2 separate regions of the Homo sapiens genome follow, and region 2 is linked to region 1. Evidence: fine-mapped expression QTL. A gene starts in region 1. The other region holds a variant in brackets. All regions are shown on one strand. Distances are between the middles of the regions.

Region 1 (11,809 bases):
CACCAGACCTTAATGCCAGGAACTGGAGTGCTTGAAGGAGCTGCAGACAGATTAGCAGTGATTAACCCATTAAAATAGATAAAGACACTTGGAAGCTCTGTGATTTCAATGATGGTTGTGCTTTTAATCTGTGTTGTTTGTCTTTGTATAGTATGCATATGCGAATCCCGACTCCTGCAAGAAGTAGCTCACTGTGACAAAGCTGCCTTTGCTTTTATTGCTTTGCAAAACAAAAAAGGGGGACATGTGGGAACAGGCTCCCAAACCTGGCCATAAACTAGCCCCAGATTTGGCCATAAACAAAATCTCTGCAGCACTGTGACATGTTTGTGACAGCCATGACGCCCACGCTGAAGGTTGTGGGTTTACTGGAATGAGGGCAAGGAACACCTGGCCCACCCAGGGCAGAAAACCGCTTAACGTGTTCCTAAGCCACAACAATAGCATGAGCAATCTGTGCCTTAAGGACGTGTTCCTGCTGCAGACATCTAGCCAGAGCCTATCCCTTTGTTTCGGCCCATCCCTTTGTTTCCTGTAAGGAATACTTTTAGTTAATCTATAATCTATAGCGATAATGCTTATCACTGGCTTGCTGTCAGTAAATATGTGGGTAAATCTCTGTTAGGGGCTCTCAGCTCTGAAGGCTGTGAGTCCCCTGATTTCCCACTCCACACTCTACATTTCTGTGTGTGTGTCTTTGATTCCTCTAGCGCTGCTGGGTTAGGGTCTCCACGACCGAGCTGGTCTCAGCAGTCCATTGTAATTCTAAGTTACCTTTAGTAAGGCTCACACATTTCTCTAGAAAAGCACAGGTTCTTGGTCCATAATTCTTATAAATGAAATCGGCTGGAGTTGCAGATGGAGTTGTAGACTCCTTAAATCCAGATAAGCCCAGGATTCCCTGTCTTCTAGTAACCTTATCTACTTGAGGCCTCCTAGAGCACCAGTCCAGTTTCAGTTTCTTCACTGAATCCAATCCAATTCTGGAGCCAATCCATCAAAGAATTGCTCAAATAAAGTCAGAGAGCTGAAAATGCAAATGTATAGTGCTCAAGTCTGAGCAGGAACTTACCCACAACTACCAGTTGAAAGCAGTGAAAGAGCAATGGGCACAATGAGCCCCACAGGTACCTTCACTTGGTCACTAAGAGCTCCTGGGAGTCACTATAGGTCTCCTTTGGATCCTGCTTGCAACACCAAACACTGTTAAAAGAGAAACTTCAGACAAATTAAATTTGACAGAGTTTATTTTAGCAAAGAATGATTCATGAATCAGGCAGCACTCAGATTCACAAAAGTTTCAGAGAGCATCCAACAGTGTGAGCAGTGAGCTTTTATAGGCCAAACACAAGAGCATAGTAATCACCTGATTGGCTTCAGCTAGGAGTCTGCCTTATTTGGGTATGGTGTAATAGGCATTTACCTTGTTTGGGCATAGTCTGATCAGTTGGCTGCCTGTGATTGGCTAAAGCTTGGCTATTTATGATTTGGTGGAAATTTAGCTATTAATTACAAAAAAAAAGCTCCTAAGTTAGGTTTCAGTTTGTTTATGTAGTATACTAAATTAGGTTGCAGTTTATTATGTAAGAACTCAAAGTGTAGAGACAGTCTCAGGATAATGGCCTCCTGCTTATGTCATTTAACAAAAGAGAGGTCCTCAATTTTATTCCTTAGATGAGTTATTTGTACCAGCTTTTATTGTCTTGCCAGAGGTTCATCATTTTTATTAGCATTTTCAAAAAATCAACTTCTGACTTGATAGATCCCCTATTTTCTAGCACATTAATTTCTATTCTTATATTATTATTTCCCCTGTTCTGATTTCTCTGGATTTATTTTACTATTCCTTTTCCAGTTTTTAAGGTATTTGCTTGCTCATTCATTTTTCGTCACTCTTCATTTCTAATATATGCACTTAAGGTTGTAAGTTTCCTTTAAGCAACAGTTTAGGTGCATCTGACAAGTTTTTATATGTAATTTTTTTCATAAGTCATTAAAAATATTTTCTGATTTTCATTCTGATTATTTTTTGACCCATGGGTTATTTAGAAATTTACTAATTTCCAAATATATGAGAATTTTCTATAAGTTTTTCTGTTCTTTTCTACTTTAATTGCATTATGGTCAGAAGACATATTCTGTATGATTTAAATTCTTTAAAATGTATTGCAATTTACTCTATGAGCCAGTATATGGTCAGATTTTAAGTATGCTCTGTGATTTCAGCTGCTGTTGGAAGTAGTATAGGTTCCTTATGTGAACTACATTGTGTTCGCATTTTCTTTATCCTTATTGATTTTTGTCTGGTTTTTCTATCAGTTACTGAGAGATGTATGATAAAATCTCCCACTATGATTGTGGATTTTTCTATGAATTTTCTATTTTTCTAGTTCAGTCAATTTGGCTCTATTCTTTTTCTATTTTCTAGTTTCTTAATGTTGTTATAAGTACTTATAAATTCAAAATTTTTATTTCTTCTCAGTGAAACCTTTAACTTAGTGAAACGTTTATCTACAGTTATGATTTTTTTCCTAATTCTATTTTGTCTAATAGTAATATTGCCACAACAGCTTTCTTTTGATAAATGGTTGCATCTGTTCACTTTATACCTTTTAGTATCCATAAATGTGTCTCTTGTAAACAGCATATGATTGTTGGGTTGTTTTGAAGTCTAGTCTGATAATATTAGTCTGATTATCATAAAATTTAGTCTATCTCATTTAGTTACTGATGTATTAAATTGCATTTAATATAATTACTGACATTTTGGGCTTTAAAGTAATTGAACTATTGCTATGGTTTGAATGTGTGCCCCAAAGCTCATGTATTGGAAATTTCATCTTCAATGCAACAGTGTTGAGAGGTGGAATTTTTGTTTGTTTGTTTGTTTTGAGACAGAGTCTCGCTCTGTCACCCAGGCTGGAGTGCAGTGGCATGATCTCGGCTCACTGCGAGCTGAGAGGTGGAACCTTTTAAGAGGTGATTAGGTTATGAAGGCTGTACCCTCATAAATGGATTAATGTTATCACCAAGGGAGCAGTTTATTGTGAGAATGAGTTTGTTATAAAAGTAAGTTCTGTCCTCTCTTGCTCTCTCTCACCATGTGATGCTTTCCATCATGTTATAATGTAGCCAGATGACCCTCACCAGATGCAGCCCTTCAATCTTGGACTTCCCAGACTCCAGAACCATGAATGGATAAATTTCTGTTCTTTGTAAATTACCCAGTCTCAGGTATTTTGTTACAGCAGCACCCAAGGGACTGTGACAACTATGTACTTTATTCTTGTCCCATTTGTTTTATGTTCTATTGTCTCTCTTTTCTTGCCCTCTTTTAAATTTGGGGGTATTCCATTAGATTTTTTCTACTCTGTTAGTTTATCAATAAAACTGTACCCCAAAAAATTAACTGATAGCTTAGAAACCCCCAAAACATGCTGTCAACTTCTGGCAGTTTTTGTAAATGTAAAATGGGTACATTATAAAGAACTTAAAGATGTTCCTTGCTTAGAACAGGAAGAACCTTTAAAATATTGGTGAATAAATCATTTTCCAATAGTTTCTGCTCTTGCTTTTGTTGTTTGTTTGTTTTGTTTTGTGTTTTGTTGTTTGTTTGGTCTGTCCCTTCAAGTCAGGCCACCATAGCTACAGTTGCTCTTTGGTAAAAATCTTAATAACAGAGTCAAAAGATTAAAGTCATCTCAGCAAACTTTGAGTTGTCTACACCCAGATTACTCTCCTTCTCTTTCTCCGCCCCCACCCACCACTTCCAATCACCTCTTTCTCTCTCTTTCTCTCTCTTTCAAACAGGAAAAAGACTTTCCTGGCTTGCATTTAAGTTCTAAACACAAGTTCATATTTATAGAAGTTGAAGAAGTTGTAAAGGGCACTTCAAAGCATTCTTACTTGAAGGACTCGACTTTGCTTAAACGCTGTAAGTTGTTTTCTAATCAGAGACCTAACTCACACATCCTAAGAATGAAGGAACGCAGAGGTGGGGCGAAGCCTGCCAGGGAGCAGAGGTCAGACTTGGGTTAGGGAGCCAGGGTCCTGGACAGACCCAGAGCACGGAACCTTTCCCACCTCTGAGCCACGGTGACCAAAATCCAAGCTCCGTCCTAGCAGTAACCAGTGAGCGAGGACACACCCCCTGCCAGACGCTAGCTCGTTGAAAGCCTTTACCCAATCTTTGTCATCCGAGCCAAGAGGGGCCAGGAGGCGGGGAGAGCGACCCTACCGGGAATCAGGGAAGCGGGAGGGCCAGGCCGTGAGGGAAGCGGGAGGGCCGGGCCGGGGCCACCGCCCCCCTCGGCCTCCCGAGGGAGGTGGCGGCCAGAGGCCCGGAGCCCCAGCGGAAGCTCTCCGCGGCAACCCCCCCGGGGCCTGCAAGGTTGGAAGGGCGCTCAGCCCAGCCGCAGCCCATTGGCACTGCACGCGCGGGGTCCCGACCTCGGGCTCTGCAGGACCCTCGGGCTCCCTTTCCGTGTAGCCCCTGCTTCTCCCGAGGGCCGACCTGAGCCGGCTTCGCTGGTGTCCACATTCCCGCGCTGGGCCGTGCAAAGAAGCACCGGCGTCCCGGGGGCCTGGTGCGCTTCCCGCTATCCCCGCCCGGACAGGAGCTAGGGGCCCAGGTGCAGCCGAACGGGAGCCCGGGTTCCCCAGAGCCCGTGACCGGGCTGCGGCTCCCCTCCGCCCCTGCCCGACCCGACCCCAGGAAGGGGTGCAGAGAGACCACACGAGTGGGGAGCGCACGACGTACCTGGGAGAACTCCGAGCAGTCACCTGAGAGAACGCCGAGCAGCCGCCTGGCTGCGCTTTCTCGCTGCCTCCGAGCCGGCCTGCCCGGGACTAGGAAGTAAGCAAAAGGGAAAGTCCGCGCGGCCGGGCGCCCCCTCCTTCTGGGGTGCGGGAACCGCCCCTTCCACGGGGCACGTGCGCCGCTGCGCAGCCGGAGGGAACTCTGGACCTCGCGCTGAGTTCCAGGCAGGTGGCCCCGAGCGAGCCCCCGCGGCCGTGCTTCCCAGCAGGCTCCCGCCCTTGACCGTGAGCTAGGCTGCGACAGGCCAGAGGCGGGTCCTGCCCCGACAGCTGCCCCGTGCAAGGCTGGGTCGAAGAAGAGAGCTGGGGGCTTGGCGGAGGTTCCAGGTCAGAGAAAAGCGAATCGAGACGCTAGAGGCGGCCTGCGTGGGATTGGCAACCACAGGGAAAGCTAAGTGCCCAACCAGTATTTTCTTGAAGCTTCGGGCATCCAGGACCTCACATCACCTGAAACACACCGTCTTTAAATTCCACTCCTGATGCTTTTCCATCCATGGAAGCCCGAACTCAGGCTCATGAATCGTGCTTCTCCTTTCCCCACTTTTCCACACTCTATTCACCTGCCAGTACATCTCCAGGGTCCGCTTCCACCCAAAAGTCTATGCCCTCCTGCATTAAAATAGGTTCACCCTCCAGACTAACACAGAACGATTTTGCCTAAGGGAGCAGATAAGGACAGCCCCGGATTTTTTTCCCCAATCCAGTGACAGTCCCTACTGGTGCACCATCTCTAGCACCTACATTCCATCCCACTTCTCACCATGCAAAGATTTGGGCTTCCCACTTCTGTCTACAGTTTGAAGCTAAGCCCTTCCCTTGCCCCTATTCCATCCCTACTTCCCAAAGTAATACCAAAAACAGTCATTGATCAATTTTCTTCATTGCCACAGAACCTAGCTGTCTCCACGGTTAGGAATATGTATAAGGGAAGAAAACAAGCTTTTAAAATTCAACTGCCTTAATGTTAATAATCTACCTTTTATGTTCATAATTACATTTGATTTTCACAAAGTGAGATATGAAGCAGAGCAAGCATCCTTGTTCCTCCCTTACACAAGAAAATGTCATGTGAATTGTATAACATATGACAGAACTGAGATTTGAAACCAGAATTTTACCTTAAATCCAGGGCTGTTTCTCCTACCCTGTTCCACATCCCTAATCCTCTCTGATGGTTGGAACATCAGGGAAACTTAATCAATAGACCTAAATATGAAATTGAGAGGTTTTTGTATACAGGTCACTATCTTACTATTTTTCTTTATCCTGACCATCAGGTTGTCCAGCTGGCTGAAAATGCTTTCTTATTAATTCCAAATCTCCAGCTCTCTACCTTGTGATTTCTGACAAAAGAAAACTTCCTTCAAATTATTTCTCCTGAAACTAAAAACTTGTTTTTTCTCTATTTCTCTTCCCTAGTTGAACTGCCTAAGGTGGATTTTGATGCTATTGCTCTATAATCCCAAAGTCAATTAGAATTGTCTGGCAAAGTCAGATAGAAATCATTTATTTAGCCACAAATCAGTGTCCTCTGCATATATTGAAGGTAGTTGTACACTGTCCACAAAGCTATTAGCACGTCCAATTCAGACACAGTCCTTATACTTGTTCAGTTCTTGACATTTTCTTTTTTTTTTTTTTTTTTTCTGAGATGGAGTCTCGTTTTGTCACCCAGGCTGGAGTGCAGTGGTGCAATCTCATCTCACTGCAGTCTCCACCTCCCAGATTCAAGCAATTCTCTGCCTCAGCCTCCCAAGTAGGTGGGATTACAGGTGCGTGCCACCACGCCTGGCTAATTTTTGTATTTTTGGTAGAGACAGGGTTTTGCTATGTTGACCAGGCTGGTCTTGAACTCCTGGCACCAAGTGATCCACCAGCCTAGGCCTCCCAAAGTGCTGGGATTACAGGTGTGAGCCACAGCACCCGGCCTAGTTCTTGACATTTTTGAAGCACCTTCACATCTAGAATTTCATCTGAATCTTACAATAACACATGCAATAAATAATTCTGATATTACTATTCCTTTGGTTAAAGTGATTAGGGAACTTGCCCAGAGTCGCATGGCTCACAGTTAACATGTGGCAAATCCCAGGTTAGACTCCAAGTCTCCTTCTGTATCTAGATATAAGACCTCCTATAACTCTCTACCAAAAAAAAGAAAAATGTTGATTAAAGTTAGAAAATCAACACGGCATATGAAATGTACTAATATTTGGGGAAAGGGTAACTTTCATTGTATATATTCATAGTTTTGAGCATCTAACTGAAATCCTAAGCTGTTATCTGAAAGTTATCCGAAAACACAAGGCCAGCGTGGTGGTTCACACCTGTAATCCCGGCACTTTGGGAGCCCAAGACAGGAGGATCTTGAGTCCAGGAGTTTGAGACCAGCCTGGGCAAAACAGGGAGACCCCCATCTCTACAAAAATTCAAAAATTAGCCAGGCATGATGGTTTGTAGCTGTAACCCCAGCTACTCAGGAGGCTGAGGTTGGAGGATCGTTTGAGTCCAGTGTGTTGAGGCTGGGAGATAAGAGTGAGACTCTGTTTCGAAAAAACAAAACAAAACACACAGTCTATGTCTTTTTCACATAAAGTATATTGTAATTGTCAGATGAAATAATAAGAAACTCATCCACCGAAAACCACTTAATGAAAATATGCCATAAATCCTGCATTATTTTACAGATCTTTATACATGAACATACATTCTTCAAAATTTTTTTACTCTGCACAGATGTCCGTATGTCCGTAATTTTTTAAGACATTTCAAAAATATTGCCTATGCAAAATAATAGTAGTAAACTTCTAAGTTAACATAGAACCAAGTTCTGAAAACAGAATATTTCATGTTGTATATATTTCCCTTTTAAAAACTAGGAGTTTTTTTTTTTTTTTTTTTTTGTGGGCTCCTGCGGGCCAGGGGACTGAGGCAAGCACCTTGGAGCTGAGCCATAGAAATCAGATCAAAAAGTGTGTTGGAATGAGTAGATGGACAGAATGAATTATGGGGAAGAGGGAACTGCACTCTTCAAAGGTCCCAGCCAGAAGTGGGGCTGGGGGCTGGGGGCAGGGGAAGGGAGCAGGAGGCATGATGACTCCCAAGCTCATTTTTCTTTTTTTTGATATGTTTTATTTATTATTATTATACTTTAAGTTCTAGGGTACATGTGCACAACGTGCAGGTTAGTTACATATGTATACATGTGCCATGTTGGTGTGCTGCACCCATTAACTCGTCATTCACATTAGGTATTTCTCCTAATGCTACCCCTCCCCCAGCCCCCCACCCCACGTTAGGCCCTGGTGTGTGATGTTCCCCACCCTGTGTCCAGGTGGGAATTGTTCAATTCCCACCTATGAGTGAGAACATGCAGTGTTTGGTTTTTTGTCCTTGTGATAGTTTGCTCATAATGATGGTTTCCAGCTTCATCCATGTCCCTACAAAGGACATGAACTCATCCTTTTTTATGGCTGCATAGTATTCCATGGTGTATATGTGCCACATTTTCTTAATCCAGTCTATCATTGATGGACGTTTGGGTTGGTTCCAAGTCTTTGTTATTGTGAATAGTACCGCAATAAACATACGTGTGCATGTGTCTTTATAGTAGCATGATTTATAATCCTTTGGGTATATACCCAGTAATGGGATGGCTGGGTCAAATGGTATTTCTAGTTCTAGATCCTTGAGGAATCACCACTGTCTTCCACAATGGTCGAACTAAAAACTAGGAGTTTTCTTTAACTAAAACCCTTCCCGCTGAGCTTCATTAGTGGCCACTCCAGGCAGGTCTAGGTGTTAATTATCTTCTGCAGCTTAACAGAAATGCTGGGGAATGATCCTAGCCATAGACTGAAGGCCTGTGTCCTCCTGAAATTCATCTGTTGAAATCCTAACCCCCAATGTGAGGTACTGGAGGTGGGCCCTTTGATGAGTGATTAGGTCATGGGGGCAGAAGCTTCATGAATGGGATTAGTTCCCTTCCAAAAGAAACTTCAGAGAGTTCCCTCACCCCTTCCACCACCAAGAACACAGTGAGAAGACAGCTATCTTTGAGCCTGGAAGAGTTCCTCACCAGATACCAAATCTGCCAACACCTTGATCTTGGACTTCCCAGCCTCTAGATCTGTGAGAAATGAATTTCTCTTATCTATAAACTACCCAGTCTATTGGCATTTTTGCTATAGCAGCCCAGATTGACTAAGGCAAATGGCTTCTTAATGGGCTCCAGAAGAATGAGAATGGCAGCATCACTGTTCTCATCAAAAAGACGGAAATGGGAGAAGTCCAGTTCCTTCTTGCACCACTCACTCTTCACAAAGTTTTCAGAAAGCACAAAGACAGTTTTGTGTCTCTTTTCAATGGAGTCAATGATATTGTCAATGATCCACTTGCCAGGAATGAAGTCCCACTTATGAAGACACAACTTGAAGAGGGGATTGAAGTTCTCCAGCTCCTGGACCATAAGGTTCTCCACCCAGTAGGCATCCTGCTCACTATAAGAAACAAATGCGTCATAGCAGATGTCCCTGCTGCAAGCTTTCCTGTGCTTCCTTTTGGCCTAGAGCCAGGCCCACATCATTTTCATGTACCACGGGCTGTGGAAACAGTGGCACAGAACCCCCATGGGCAGGATCAGCAGGAACAGGGCACAGCACATGCCAGACACCAGTGCCACCCTGTGGCACTCCGACACCAAAAGGCAGACGTCCTGAACCTGTTGGCCACACACGTGGGATGGAGAGTCACACAGGTAGTTTGCTGGCCAACCGATAAGAACTTTGGCCAGTGCTTGCTGCTCCTGAGTGAAGGAGAGGAATTCACAGGAGCAAATGAAGTTGTTGCCACCAGCTTCCAAAGTCTTCAGTGTGTGAAAAGAGTCAAGTTGCCCTTTAGAGAAAGTTTTCTTTTCCTGCTTCTTCTCAAAGGGGAAGAAAGCATCTGGTAGGGTCTTCAACACATATCTGAAAATGTAAAGTTATTTAAATTGCAGCTAAATAAAAGTTTACAAGGCTCACTTCTAGTAAGCCTCGTGTCTGGGAAACAATTGGTTAAATTGTGAATTTTTGTGTTAGATAAGTTCAAGTATTCTTCCCTTTCTGACCATTGATAAGTGATATGTAAAGAACCAAGTATATGCTGACCAAGATCAAGGTTAGTCAGTTTTTCTAGAGTTAAGCAGCATTTTCCAGAACTTGCAGATTATTTAGCATGAAATTCAAGGTGTATAGGGAGCTTCAGGCTTCCTTATGGACTGAATACTTCAATTATTCTTCAAACATCAATTTTTCACTGAGATCTAAGAATCCTGATGATTTTGAATGTTGCAACAGAGGATATGCTATTAAGCAGATCTTGACACTTTCAACCTGAAGATCTTTAGTCAATACAAAAGTAGAAGCATGTCTTTAAAATTTTGTCATCATTGAAAATTCCTGTAGCTGAGCTCTGTTTTATTACAGTTTCTATTGGACGTGGTCTTTTCGTGGGATCTCAGCCATCTCATCTTCCATTTTCCTGAACTACATAGGCTTCCAGCTTTACCTCCAACAAGTGATTTGCAAATGCTCTCATTTGATTGCTTCAGCTTATCTTAATATTAGTTTTTTCACAATGAGCCTGACTATAAGGTCCTTTTTTCTTCCTTTTATCTCATATGAAGAACAGTGTTTCCCGCTTCCAAATACTTTTAGAAACTTGAAAGATCAAACAAAACGTCTCAGAGTAAAGTTGACTGCTTCATATGTCAGCTCAAGTGACTGATCTACATTTATTTCAGGCTTTTTAGTTCATATCTCTGGGGATTGGAAACATAAATTTTAAATTAGTTCAGAACAGAAAGTTGGTAAAATATCCTGTTGTTTTTAATTTAGAGAACTTATATATATTTCATGAATTTAAATTTGGGAAAATGGAAAAAGAGAGAAGGAAACATTTCCTCAAGTCTCTGTTGGACTATCCCAGAAGTAAAGAGTCAGACTGTGAGGATGATAGACAAGGTTAGTTGTTAAAGGATAGATCCAAATGCACAAGGCTCCCGAAGACAAGGCAAGTAGTTTTCACCTGTTGTAAGAATTCTGTCAGGCTATAGAAAAGGTGCTTCCAGATTCACACACATCTGCTAAGTATGACTGGATGTAAATCCCATGGGGCAGGGATTTTGTTTTCTTTTATGCACTGAACTATTCTCATCCCCAATAGCATGGCTGGCACTCAATGAATACTTGTTGAGTGGTGGATTGCCTTGCCTTTTCAGAATATGGGCTAGACCTGGAGGAATGGAGTATAAACATCTGAAGTGGCCATTGCAGAGACAAGACTTCAGGGGAAAGAAGCCTAGACCAGGCCCCTTGTCTTGACTGACATCTTGCCTCCACCACACAAGAGCTGACTTCATTTAAAGATGGGAATGAAGAAATATAGTGCACTATTTTCACCCACATAGTCAAGCAAAACCATGAGTGACTGATATCATTTTAATATATATAAGGGTTATATGGCCTTTCAGACCACTTCAGAGAAGAATATGAAAAGAAGGTAGAATTTTATCAAGTTCTAACTTATTTGGAGCACCTTGAAAAATGTACTAAAATATCTTAGCCTGGTTCACGCCTGTAATCCCAACACTTTGGGAAGCCAAGGCAGGTGGACCACCTGAGGTCAGGAGTTTGAAACCAGCCTGGCCAACATGGTGAAACCCCATCTCTACTGAAAATACAAAATTAGCTGGGTGTGGCAGTACCCGCCTGTATTCCCAGCTACTTGGGAGGCTGATACAGGATAATCACTTGAACCTAAGAGGCGGAGGCTGCAGTGAGCTGAGATCATGCCACTGCACTCCAGCCTGGGCAAGACAGAGTTGAGACTCCATCTCTCTCAATCTCTCTCTCTCTATATATATAATATAGATATATATCTATATATCTATATATATATCTTAGCCAAATAACTGCTGAGTCCAACTTTGTGGTATGCCAGTCTGTGTAGG
Region 2 (11,809 bases), 27 kb before region 1:
GATGAGAAGTTATAATTGGCAATGTGCTTTGGGTCCCTTTGGAATTCAATGAGTTTTTGCCTGGAAACCTTAACCCCTCTGTAGCATTCTTCTTACAGGAAACGGTGTCTCACATTCTAAACTATCTTAGAAGCAGTGGAGATTCTTTTTTTTTTTTTTTTTTTTTTTGAGACAGAGTCTTGCTCTGTCACCCAGGCTAGAGTGCAGTGGCGCAATCTCAGCTCACTGCAACCTCCACCTCCCGGGTTCAACCGATTCTCCTGCCTCAGCCTCCCGAGTAGCTGGGATTACAGGCACCCACCACCGCACCTGGCTAATTTTTTTGTATTTTTAGTAGAGACAGGGTTTCACCCCGTTGGCCACGCTGGTCTCGAACTCCTGACCTTGTGATCCACCTGCCTCAGCCTCCCAAAGTGCTGGGATTACAGGCATGAGCCACCATGCCCGGCCGCAGTGGAGATTCTATGTGCCAAGGGCTGCCTGTCCCAGTGCCTGGCAGTGGCTTCCTGCATTCAGAGAGTGGCATGTGCTCTCCTTTCTGACTGTGCTCTGTCCATTTCCTCTGATAGTTCTACAGTGTCAGCCGGTTGCCTACAAGGAGCTTATCGGACAATATCTGTGCAGTCTGTGGGCAGAAGATCATTGTGGAGCTTGATGAAGAAGGGCTCATTGAAAACACCTACCAGCTTTCCTGTAATCATGTGTATCCTTTTCAAAGGAAATTGTTTGGGCTTCATCAAGCCTCCTTCTTTCCTCCTTCTCCTCCTCCTCCTCCTGTCCCCATCTCCTCCATCTTGCTTACCTTCCATGCCCAAACCCCAGTCCTTTATCCTCCAGCCCAGTCGAGTCTTCCTGTTTGTCCCTGCTGAATAATGAACTGCTAATTAAGGTGAACCTCCTCCTCCAGTAATTTCCTTTCTAAAGAGGACTGTTAATGCCACATAGACAGGAAGGCAGTATCTGAGCAGGGTGCTGGCAGGGGAAATTGGTTGAAGTCATAAGTGAGCAGATAGCCAACAAAGATCAGGGAAAGAAGGGGTTTGGAGGTGAGAAAAAGAGTGAAGTATCAGGTGCAGGGGGGAACTTAAGACTATCCAAGTGGAGCCCAAGGTCTGAATCTTAGCAGATCAAGAAATACAAAGAGTGCTTTGCCTAGAAATAATCCTAGGAACCTACCTGTGGCAACAGTAGTCTTGGGGGCAGCCAAGGGAGGAAACCAAGCCTTCTTCTCAGCTTCAGTCTTTAGAAGAAGATACAGCCACAGGCAGCAAGACACCTTGGATTACAAAAGCAGGGACCAAAATTTGGACATTTGTTCTTGGACCATGGGCTCCTCCACCAATGGGTTCTATCCCAAATAGCTATCCATTGGCTGAGGGATCTTCATATGATAGGTACCAGACAGCCTGAGCCTGGAAACCAGCATTCTATGTGAACTCCAGTAACCATTAAGGAAAGCCTCAATGTGCTGAAAAATGCTGGCATCGAGACCCCTGAACAAATCAACCTGTGTTGCCTGAACATGTATGGACACTACTTTTGCTATGGATACCAAAGTTAGGCTTAGGTTGGCCAATCATCAGTATTTTAATTCTTCCTAAATACAAAAAAGGGTATCATTTATCTTTATTTTATAGTACAGTATCAATTTAATAATGTCATCGCTATGTACCCAGTTAGTTCAAAGCTCTGGCATTATGAGATGGTTAAACCATCTGTCTTTTGCCTAAAGCCCACTTAATTTAGTCAGTCATACCTCGGTGTCCAGTACCTATGATTCAATTCTGTTTAATCTGGACAGTTTCCACTTATTCAATCCTGAAAGTAAAACCAGGACCAAATGCATCTCAAAAGTAATAGGAGCCTTTACTCCAATACATAAGCCTTAAAATCTTAAGGGAAGAAACACAAAGATACCCCATATGGATTTCTGTAGTGGTTTTTTCAGTGTGATACCTTTCCCAAAAAACTCATTCTTTGTAGCAATTTTCCAAGTCTGGCCCTAGTTTTAAATATGATTTATTTTTCAAATGTTGGAACAGAGCCCCTTCTGCCATTTGCAAATGGAAATGTTTTCTCTCTCCACCTTTAAAAGCCCTTAGGGATTGTTGTACATGTGTGCATATATAATCTAAAATGTAGTCACCTTTAAATTTGCTTTTCAGGGAGTATTATTAATGGCCCATTTTAGCATGAGTCATATTAGTGAGAAATGGGCAAATATGAGTCATATTAACAAGGATGGGTTATCTGAGTCTTGCTCTGCAGAAGTTCTGCCAGTGTGCAAGTTTTTCAGCATTGAGATTTTGAAAATGAAAAAGAACATTAGAGAGAATGTGGACATTTCTGTGCTGACTCAATGGCCCCTGAATTCTATACCTCTGTAGAAGATGGGGCTGTATTCCAGCCCTTTTGAATGAAAGGCTGTTTGAGTTTTGGTTCAAAATCTTCGTTATAATACACCACTTTATTTTAAAGCATATTGCAAAAATGACCCCAATTCCAAGAACATAAAATAATGGAAACTCCTGGTTACATTGAAATTTAATACTGAGGAGTTATATACATGGCCTTGACTTGCTACACCTCCAAGCTCCTCCATTTGTTAGGGAGGGAACTTCTACATCGTTGCTGTTCACCTGGGTGTGTAGCAGGCCAGTCAGAAGATCATGTGATCTTGGCCCAGAAAGTCACATTGGGAGCAGCGATTGTAGAAATAAACAAATCAGTAGGATGGATTTCATTATAGTTCATTTTGCCCAAATCCATAGTATCAGGGAACATGGAAATATATATTCCCAAAAATAATCAGTTTTGAAAGAGTCATTCAAATGTTCATTCAATAAATATTTCTTAGGCATGGCTTAAGGTGCTGAGGACACTGAAATGAATGAGACATAGTCCTACAGGTAACACATGGTCTAGGAGAAACATGTAAGTACCAAAAGTCCTGCTACACTAGAGTAAGTCCCTGGTGCTGTGAGAACACATAGGGTTCACTCAAGTTTGGGGACAAAGGGTCAGACTTTCTGGACCAGGAGACGTATACAAATGGATCTGTAAATGCCTAGAGTTTGAGAAGTTAAGTTTAGTAGGTATATATTCTATTAAAAATAATTGGCTCCTTATCAGTACTTTTAAAAGTCAAGAAAAAAAATTATGAAGTTAATGGAAATATTTGTAACTTTATGACCACAAATAATTTTAACTTGTCTAAGTGCCTAAGACAAGTCTGATTACATGAAGCTAAAGAATAATGCACAAAAAGTAGAACAGAGAAATGCTACGGTAAATGCCTGAGAAACGCACAATAACAAGGTGGGGAAATATAACAATACACTTATGGAAGACATCACTGTAAAGGAAAAAAAAAAAAAAGGACTCATATTCTTTATCTAATCTAATTCTTACCAGAATCAAGTGAGGCAAGAAGGCCAAGAAGCTAAGTAAATTCCTCAGGGTCATAAAGCGAAGGCAGCTGTGACTCCAGGCTCACTGTCATTGTCAGGTCCCTTACAGAACCTCCCGAAAAAAGCGATGTGCCTCATCAAGTCATGACTCCACCACTAGACCCTGAAGATGGGACCATTCCATGCCATCATGAACCAGACATTGCCTTTTCATATCTAGAAGCCTCCCTAACAAGATGCTTCAGCTTTCATGAATTCTGCATCCGAGGTTGGTGTATCGTTGGGAAAAAGCAGACTTGCCCTTACTGCAAAGAGAAAGTTGATTTGAAGAGGATGATCAGTAATCCATATCCTTTAAAACAAAAAGGTTATAAGAGATTATCTTGAATGTTTCTGGGGATATATTCTTCAATGAAAAGTTTCAGTGTTTTTGTATAGTTCCAGCAGAAAATTTTTTGTTTTCCCTAACCACCTATTTCAAAATGACTTATGGTCTCTTTTCTCCTCTGTGCCTATATTACTATTCTGGTTAGAAAGTTAAATGCCAGAAAACATTCCACTCTTTATGTTCTATATTTTCCACATTAAGGGCTGTAGTGGAAATGTGATGAGACACTGCAAAAAATAGGTAAAATATATGGAAGAATATTCAGGATGGATGGATGGATGAATAAATGAGTGAACTGGATGGGTGGGTAGATAGGTGCATAAATAGAAAAATTGGAATTGAAATTTTAAAAGCCGAAATGTGAACTAGAGTACAGAAAACTATTTTTAAAATATGTTAGGGTGTACCAAATTTTATTATTCCCAGAAATGAGTAGGTATTTCCCCGTCTGGATTTTGGCTTTTTAAATTCCATGCCATGCATCATCTCTTCTTAGGCCAAACACTAGTGATAACAATATTGAAAATAAATAAAGATTTACAGAGTTGATCAGCTTCTGGCAGCCACTGAGATTTGTATAGACATCAGAGGTGTGCAACAGAATAAATTCAAGTCACATTAAGGTCGCAGGAAGGTAATGGCCCCCATCAGGAGCTAACTAGAAAGACTTTGTCTTCAACCTCACTATCTCAAGACCATAGTATATCTCATTCAGGAAGCAGGGTGGGAATGGAATTAAAACATATCCTCCCTTAAGCAGAAGAGTCCTGAAAGGTTGGCATCAACCTGCCAAGTACCATCTCTTCTCTAAGAGACAGCCTTTCTGTACTTTCTAAGTAATAGCTAAATTTTACAATGCTAAAGGAATCACCTTCCTTGCTTCCTGCTCCCCTGTTCCTCACCAACCCTATACGTATGGTTTAACAATGGCTACTGGCAGCAATGCCCTCATCTCTGGGCACTGCAGATCAGGGAGGGATTCAAGGAGGGCATCAGAGAAGGAGGCAACATCAGTGGATCTTTGGGTCTCAAGGCCCATACCATTGCAAGAGACCACCCTCTGCAGTGCCCACTCCATCCACAGACCTGGCCTTTCTCGGTGAGTCAGTGCCACTCAAGCCCAACTCAAGGCTAAAAGTGTGTGATGATCCTTCCACCTTCCTGTTCATCCACTGTCCTGGAATTCCTCTTCTAAAATGAGGATACCAAGTCCAGAACAGTTTTTGGTTATTAACCTATAAAACCTCAATGCATAAATCTTTGTTATAAAATTGGTGATAATATGATCATAAATGTCACCTCAAGTGATACTTTAACAAAGGGTCATTCATTTCTTTATGTAGTCTTGAGAAAATAAACTGTTGAATAAAACATATACTACTCTTTTATTGAGACTCAATATAAGAAAAAACTACATGTGAAAAAGCTGTCATTTTGTTTGTAAAATTGTTGTCGGAGACACTATGCATTCATTAAGCTCCCTAGCACAGTTTATCAAAGACAGCAGAAAAAGGTCTCTCTTATCTGATGAACCAGTGTTATTCTTTGTAATATACAATGGGTTCATTCTAATGTATGACTACAGGAAAGCCCAGAGCTGTTTTTGCTCATTTAGAGCAGTTTCCACTATCCTTGGTTTTCCAATATAGTCATTCCCCTCTTCTTCCTTCTTTTAGCATATACCCTTGCCTTTGATTCTTGTTTTCTAGTTTGGGATTTTATTGTAAAGAACTTCAATTTATTTTCAGGAATTGGGTGTGGTGTAAGTAACAATGACAACCATAATGCTATAAAACTCACATAAGGGGCTTTTAATTGAGCACATAGAATTAACAAGAAAGGAAATACCCATTCATTACATTGTTTATTATATTTGCAAATGACATTTATGAATATTTCTGCTACTTGGCTGTATATAGAACAACCTCCTTAACTGAGATTTAGCTGGGAGCGCACACATTTTCTGTATGGACAAATCCTGGATTGGCTTCGTTATTTGGTGGCCTGGCAACCTGTGGTGAT[A/G]GGAATAGTTCAAGGCATTATCTATTCACTAGGGCTGGAATAGGACAGCAGACCCCAGAAGCAACATACTGCATGGTTGAAATCCTTGGTCCAACATTTAATATTAATTTTTTTAATTTTAGAGATGATCCCAAGTGTTTAGAAAACTAAGTAAACTTTGTTGTCAAGCAATTTGTCCATGTGGAAAGAATTTAAAGAGAAGCTGAACAATGGAATAAACAAATAAAGCATGTTTTTTCATCTTTCCCATTACAGCTGTTTCTTAACTCATGCACATGTCACATTTGTTACACTGCACTGTGGACATTCTACTTCCAGTTTGACTGATAACAATATCTGTAAAGTGTTTCAGAGGTTTGCAAAGTACTTCTCACACACAACATTTAGCCATAGCTAATACTTTCTCATCAGTTCAACATCTTTAAAGTAGGTGGAGTCGTTAAGTAATCTATGGTCAAGGACATTGTGCTTGTCTTCTGCTCCATGTGCTTGTTACCATGTGGCAGCTTCTGCACCACAGAGCTCTTCTGTAGAAAGTGGGTTACTCCCAAAGCCTCTGGCAGCAGGTGCCACACCTTCTCAATGGGCCACAGGTACTTTGGGTTTCCTGGAGCTGCCAAAAGTGCTCAAACCCATGCAACAGCTGTACTAAAGCAAGAAGAATCACTTTTCTTTTGTTCCACTCTGCGTGCGCGTGCACACATACACGTGCACAGTCATTCCATTGTGGCACTCTGCTTTTATTTTCTTCATAGTACTTCTCAATACCCGAAATCCTATCATAAATTTATTGTCTTCTCCTCCATGAAGACAAGGAATTTTATGTTTTGTTCCCTACCATATCCCCTGCACTTTGAGCACTGCCTAGCACATAAGAGGCACTCAAAAAATATTTGCTGAAAGAGTAAATTAATCTGGCAGAAGGGAACAAAATTAACTGAATAGAGAAGACCAGTCAGAAAGAATTAACCCATGAATGATATGTTGGACTCTCAAAATTAATTTGTTTTGAATTACTGGTCATTTTTAAAATAGTCAACACTGTATACATTTAACACCAGACATCTACTCTGCAATACTTGAAGCCATTACAATTGTATGAAGTAGAAAGGAAATACAATGATTATTTTCCTTGTTCAGATATTGGCACTATACTTAATGCTATTCAAAGGTCCATCATTAAGATAACTCACACTACAATTTCTTACTGTTGAGAACTTTCCTCTTTCAAACTGCCCAATGCTTCAGTATTATTGAAATAGGTCAGGGTCCATTGTCTCATTGTCTAAGGTGTTATTTGAACTTATTGTGTCATGACTGAGAAAATTAAGGAGCATGAATGCAAAGGGTGAGGTTGGAGCAAAAGTTTAGTAAGTGAAAGAAGAAAGCTCTCCACAGTGGAGAGGAGAGCCCAAGTGGGGTGCCATTTTACAGCTGAATGCAAAAGCTTTTATAAGAAACTCCTCTCATCTCTGTAGCTGTTTGAGTAACTTCTCTTATTTGAAAACCTGTCTGCACAACTCCACCTACCTATACAGCTGTGAGATGTCTCTAGGTAAGCACAAAGCATAGTTTTTTCTTGTTTGAGTAATTGTGGGTTTCTTTTAGGTAAACCCCCTCTGTTTCCAGTGCAATCTCCCATGGATCCCCCCGTGTTCATATCTGAAAAGGGGAGAAAACATTTTCCTGGGAGCCTGCTAATCACACAAAGAACAAAAGGCTTCTGTGCTGGACCTTGCCTGCTTATCTGTGCAGGTACAGTCTGAGTTTTCCCCAGGCTGCTCTATTTTTGCCTGTAGCTGTGATTTTCCAGGCAGACTGCTTCTCTGAAGACTAGCCTTAGCTGTCTACCGAACTGATTTTTCATTTTCTCCTCTCTCATTATGATTGATTCAGCATCCAGATTATAGAATTTTTAATTGCTTATTTCTCTACTCTGAAAACATCCCAATAATTCAATACTTACTATATAGTAGGCATGTTCAAGGGGTAGGGAGATAAAACAAGATTCTTGAGCTTATAGTCTATTGACAAATAAAAGACTTCACATTTGGATAAAGCACTAACAAAAAATTAGTTTTTCTCCTGTTAAACAAAAAAAAGAACCCTTAAACTGATCTCTAATTTAGTTCCCACTTATCTTTTATGTATAGCCACAATGGCAGCTTTCAGAACCATTTAGAACTCTCGGCAAATAAGCCAGTATTTATCTGAATGGGATTCACAATGACCCTCAGAGTTCAGGAATGTCAGATAATCACTAAACAGCCTCAGAAAAAAATGAAGATGCCATTTTCTTTATAAAATTTAAGTATTTACAATCTAATCCCAATTTTGTAAAGTAGTGTGTATATGTACACTGAAAAAAGATTGGAGAGTATTATGGCTAATACTAGGTGTCAACTTGATTGGATTGAAAGATGCCTGGATAGCTGGTAAAGTATAGTTTCTGGTGTGTATGTGAGGGTGTTGCCAGAGGAGATTAACATTTGAGTCAGTGGACTAGGAAAGGAAGATCCACCTTTAATGTGAATAGGCACCACAACACCTCAGGTGATCCTCCCACCTCAGCCTCCCAAAGTGCTGGGATTACAGGCATAAGCCACCACGTCCGTCCTAAAGATTATTTTTTAAATATTATTTTAAATCTATCAATTATCTATGAAGCTATTTCAGTTGCTATTTTAAGTTCTTGAAATTAAACATAGATCGAGTCAATGTTAAATCTACCTTGTTCTCATAATTAACATGGAAACAGAGAAGTAAAGCAGAAAGTCCATTACTGTATTTGGTGTCTGTGGAATCTCAAGTTTCCTTCCTCTAAACTTGTTTTTCGTTTGTTTTGTTTCATTTTGTTTTTTTGAGACAGTGTCTTCCTCTGTCACCCAGGCTGGAGTGCAGTGGTGCAATCACAGCTCACTGCAGCCTGGACCTCCCGGGCTCAGGTGATCCTCCCACCTCAGCATCCCGAGTAGCTAGGACCAGAGGCACATGCCACCATGCCCTGCTAATATTTTGTATTTTTTGGTAGAGACAGGGTTTTGCCATGTTTCCCAGGCTGGTCTCCAACTCCTGGACTCAAGCAATCCTCCTGCCTTAGCCTCCCAAAGTGCTGGGATTACACCAAGCCTGATTTTTTTTAAGGCTGGCTACCGTTTCCTCCATAACACTCTTCTGGGAGGTCGTGTGAAACAGCAGCAGCCCTATGCGAGTTCCCCAAGGACAAGCTTGTTCTGCAGTTAATGAGCATATATTTCTTTGTGGTATTTTTCTGCAAACAGCAGGATCCCTTATATCCCTGCTAGTATCCATAACAGAAAAATATCCACTTACAAGCCATAATATATAAGGGAATGAAATATCTTCTTGGAAAATAATAATAATAGCTAACATCTACTACAGACATCACCCTCACCCCACACACGAACCCATAGTGCCCATTCTCTTAGGCGTGGTACTCTTGCCCTCAACACCCCTCCAGAGAAAATGGGAATCAAGGAGCTTAGGCTCATGGTTTACTTACATTCCTACATTTCATACTCTCAGTATCTTAGGATATAGAGATCATCATCCCTATTTTAAAGACAGAAAAACTTTTTGGGTCATGTCAACTGACTTGCCAAAGATTACACATCTACTAACCCAGGTCTTTCTGACTCTAGTGCCCAATTAACCACATACACCCAGTTCTGGTTGAGAATTGAGCAGGGGTCAAAGGCTCACTTCCTTTCACATGGTTCCCAGCTTAAGAAAGTTACATAGAATCAGCAAATAGTGCTTACCAAAGAAAGTTGCATCAAAATTTAATGTGTGGTATTATTATACCTAGATTGCAAAATTAACATATGGTAGTAGTATCTACCTTTAAATTACTGTGTATCAAACTATTTTTGAGTCATTATGAGGAAACTCTAGGTATATATTTGCTTAAAAATCTATTTAGCTCACATGTACTTTTTAAAATATTCAGAAGGGGAAAAAGGGCAGGCTTTTTTAGAATTAAAAACAAGACTTTTCGAAGAAGGAAAAAGCAACAAGATGCAGGAGATATAGGCTAAAAAACAGGAACTGAGAGTCAGAGTGATTGGACAATAACTAGAACTCAAAAGGTAGTTAGAGGCTGAGGAAGACCAGAGTCCGGATGTGGGAAGTGTCTTTCAAATTCTCCTAAACTGAGTATTTATTTTGTTAAATTACAGAAATACATAATTTACTGTACCTTGCACTGTGTACTCACTCTCTCAAGTAACTATGGCTGGAGAAACCTATCTAATAGCCAGAAAGACAGATCCAGATCACATGAAAATACACCCTCTAGTATTTCTCATCCTGTAAAGTTTAATAGGAAATACACAGCACTTTTTTCTAGGAATAGCAACAAGTTTTGGGGAGTGCCCCAAATACTTTGCCTTGTTGCTCTTGAGATCAGCTGCACAGAGAAGTGACAGCTAGGTAGGACAGAGAATGCCTTTTGTGGCCACAGAGGAGTCTCTTAGCAGGAAGAAAGAATGACACAGTCATTGAGAATCTTAAGTTCATTTGTGCTGTTTCCTAATGAACTAAGCCAGTTGCTACAGATTACAGTTGGCCCTCTATATCCATGGGTTCTGCATCCATGAAGTCAACCAACTGTGGATCAAAAGTATGTTTTAAAAATTTTGAAAATAAAAAATAACAATAATAATATAAATAAAAAGACAGTACAACTATTTACATAGTATTTACATTGTATTGGGTATCATAAGTAATCTAGAGATGATTTAAAGTATACAGGAGAATGTACACAGGTTATATGCAAATACTATGCCACTCTTATAAGGGACTTGATCATCTATGAATTTTGATATCCACGAGGATCCTGCAACCAATTCCCTTGGATACCAAGGGACTATATTCAGATATCAGTAATAGACTTATGATCATGGTTATCTCATAGAAAAAAGAAAAACCAAAAACCAATTTTTAAATCTGGCATATGTTTATAAAACAGCACCCCAGACAAAATTTGAAGTTTTGTAGTTTTAGTAAGCAAGTCCTCAAATGACGGTACATCCACGTAGTTTTTATATAATTATGTCTGAATGAACTTAACTATAACTAGTGACATAAAGATCCCAACTAGACAAAGACTGGTCTTAAATATGGGAACCTAGGACTTTATCGCAGCTCTCAGATTTACCCAAAATCCTTCCCGCTGAGCCTCGTCCATGGGCCACTCCAGGTAGGTCTTGGTGTTCATTATCTTCCGCAGCTTGCAGAAGCGCTGGGGAATGGCTTTTTTCTCAATGGGCTCCAGAAGAATGAGAATGGCAGCATCATTGTTCTCATCAAAAAGACGGAAATGGGAGAAGTCCAGTTCATACTTGCACCACTCACTCTTCACAAAGTTTTCAGAAAGCACAAAGACAGTTTTGTGGCTCTTTTCAATGGAGTCAATGATATTGTCAATGATCCACTTGCCAGGAATGAAGTCCCGCTTATGAAGACACAACTTGAAGGGGGGATTGAAGTTCTCCAGCTCCTGGACCATAAGGTTCTCCACCCAGTAGGCATCCCGCTCACTGTAAGAAACAAATGCATCATAGCAGATGTTCCTGCTGGGAGCTTTCCTGGGCTTCCTTTTGGCCTGGAGCCAGGCCCACATCATTTTCATATACCACAGGCCATGGAAACGGTGGCACAGGACCCCCGTGAGCAGGATCAGCAGGAACAGAGCACAGCACATGCCAGACACCAGTGCTGTCCTGTGACATTCCGACACCGAGAGGCGGACATCCTGAACCTGCTGGCCACGCACATGGGATGGAGAGTCACACAGGTAATTTGCTGGCCAATCAATCAAGACTTTGGCCAGTGCTTGCTGCTCCTGAGTGAAGGAGAGGAATTCACAGGAGCAAATGAAGTTATTGCCACCAGCTTCCAAAGTCTTCAGTGTGTGAAATGAGTCAAGTTGCTCCTTAGAAAACGTAGTTATTGCATTCCTACTGAT

What was found.
Region 2: its variant is fine-mapped to the expression of TLR2 in cerebellar hemisphere (GTEx, PIP above 0.99).

Annotation. Positions count from the first base shown.
Region 1 is chr4:153,677,311-153,689,119 of GRCh38, reverse strand. It overlaps TLR2 (toll like receptor 2), which reads right to left and starts at 4,840. Exons shown (of 3, transcript NM_001318789.2): 1 at 4,760-4,840; 2 at 1,073-1,218. It also overlaps the pseudogene LOC100419170. RefSeq lists silencers at 4,573-4,662, 4,943-5,122.
Region 2 is chr4:153,704,423-153,716,231 of GRCh38, reverse strand. It overlaps TLR2 (toll like receptor 2), which reads right to left. Exons shown (of 3, transcript NM_001318789.2): 3 at 9,972-11,809. The coding sequence ends at 10,970. It overlaps RNF175 (ring finger protein 175), which reads left to right. Exons shown (of 9, transcript NM_173662.4): 7 at 570-703; 8 at 3,656-3,757; 9 at 5,743-6,072. The coding sequence ends at 5,863. Among named protein-coding and RNA genes, the nearest start is that of TLR2, 26 kb to the right of the region's middle. The variant A/G (reference allele first, on the strand shown) is at 5,821.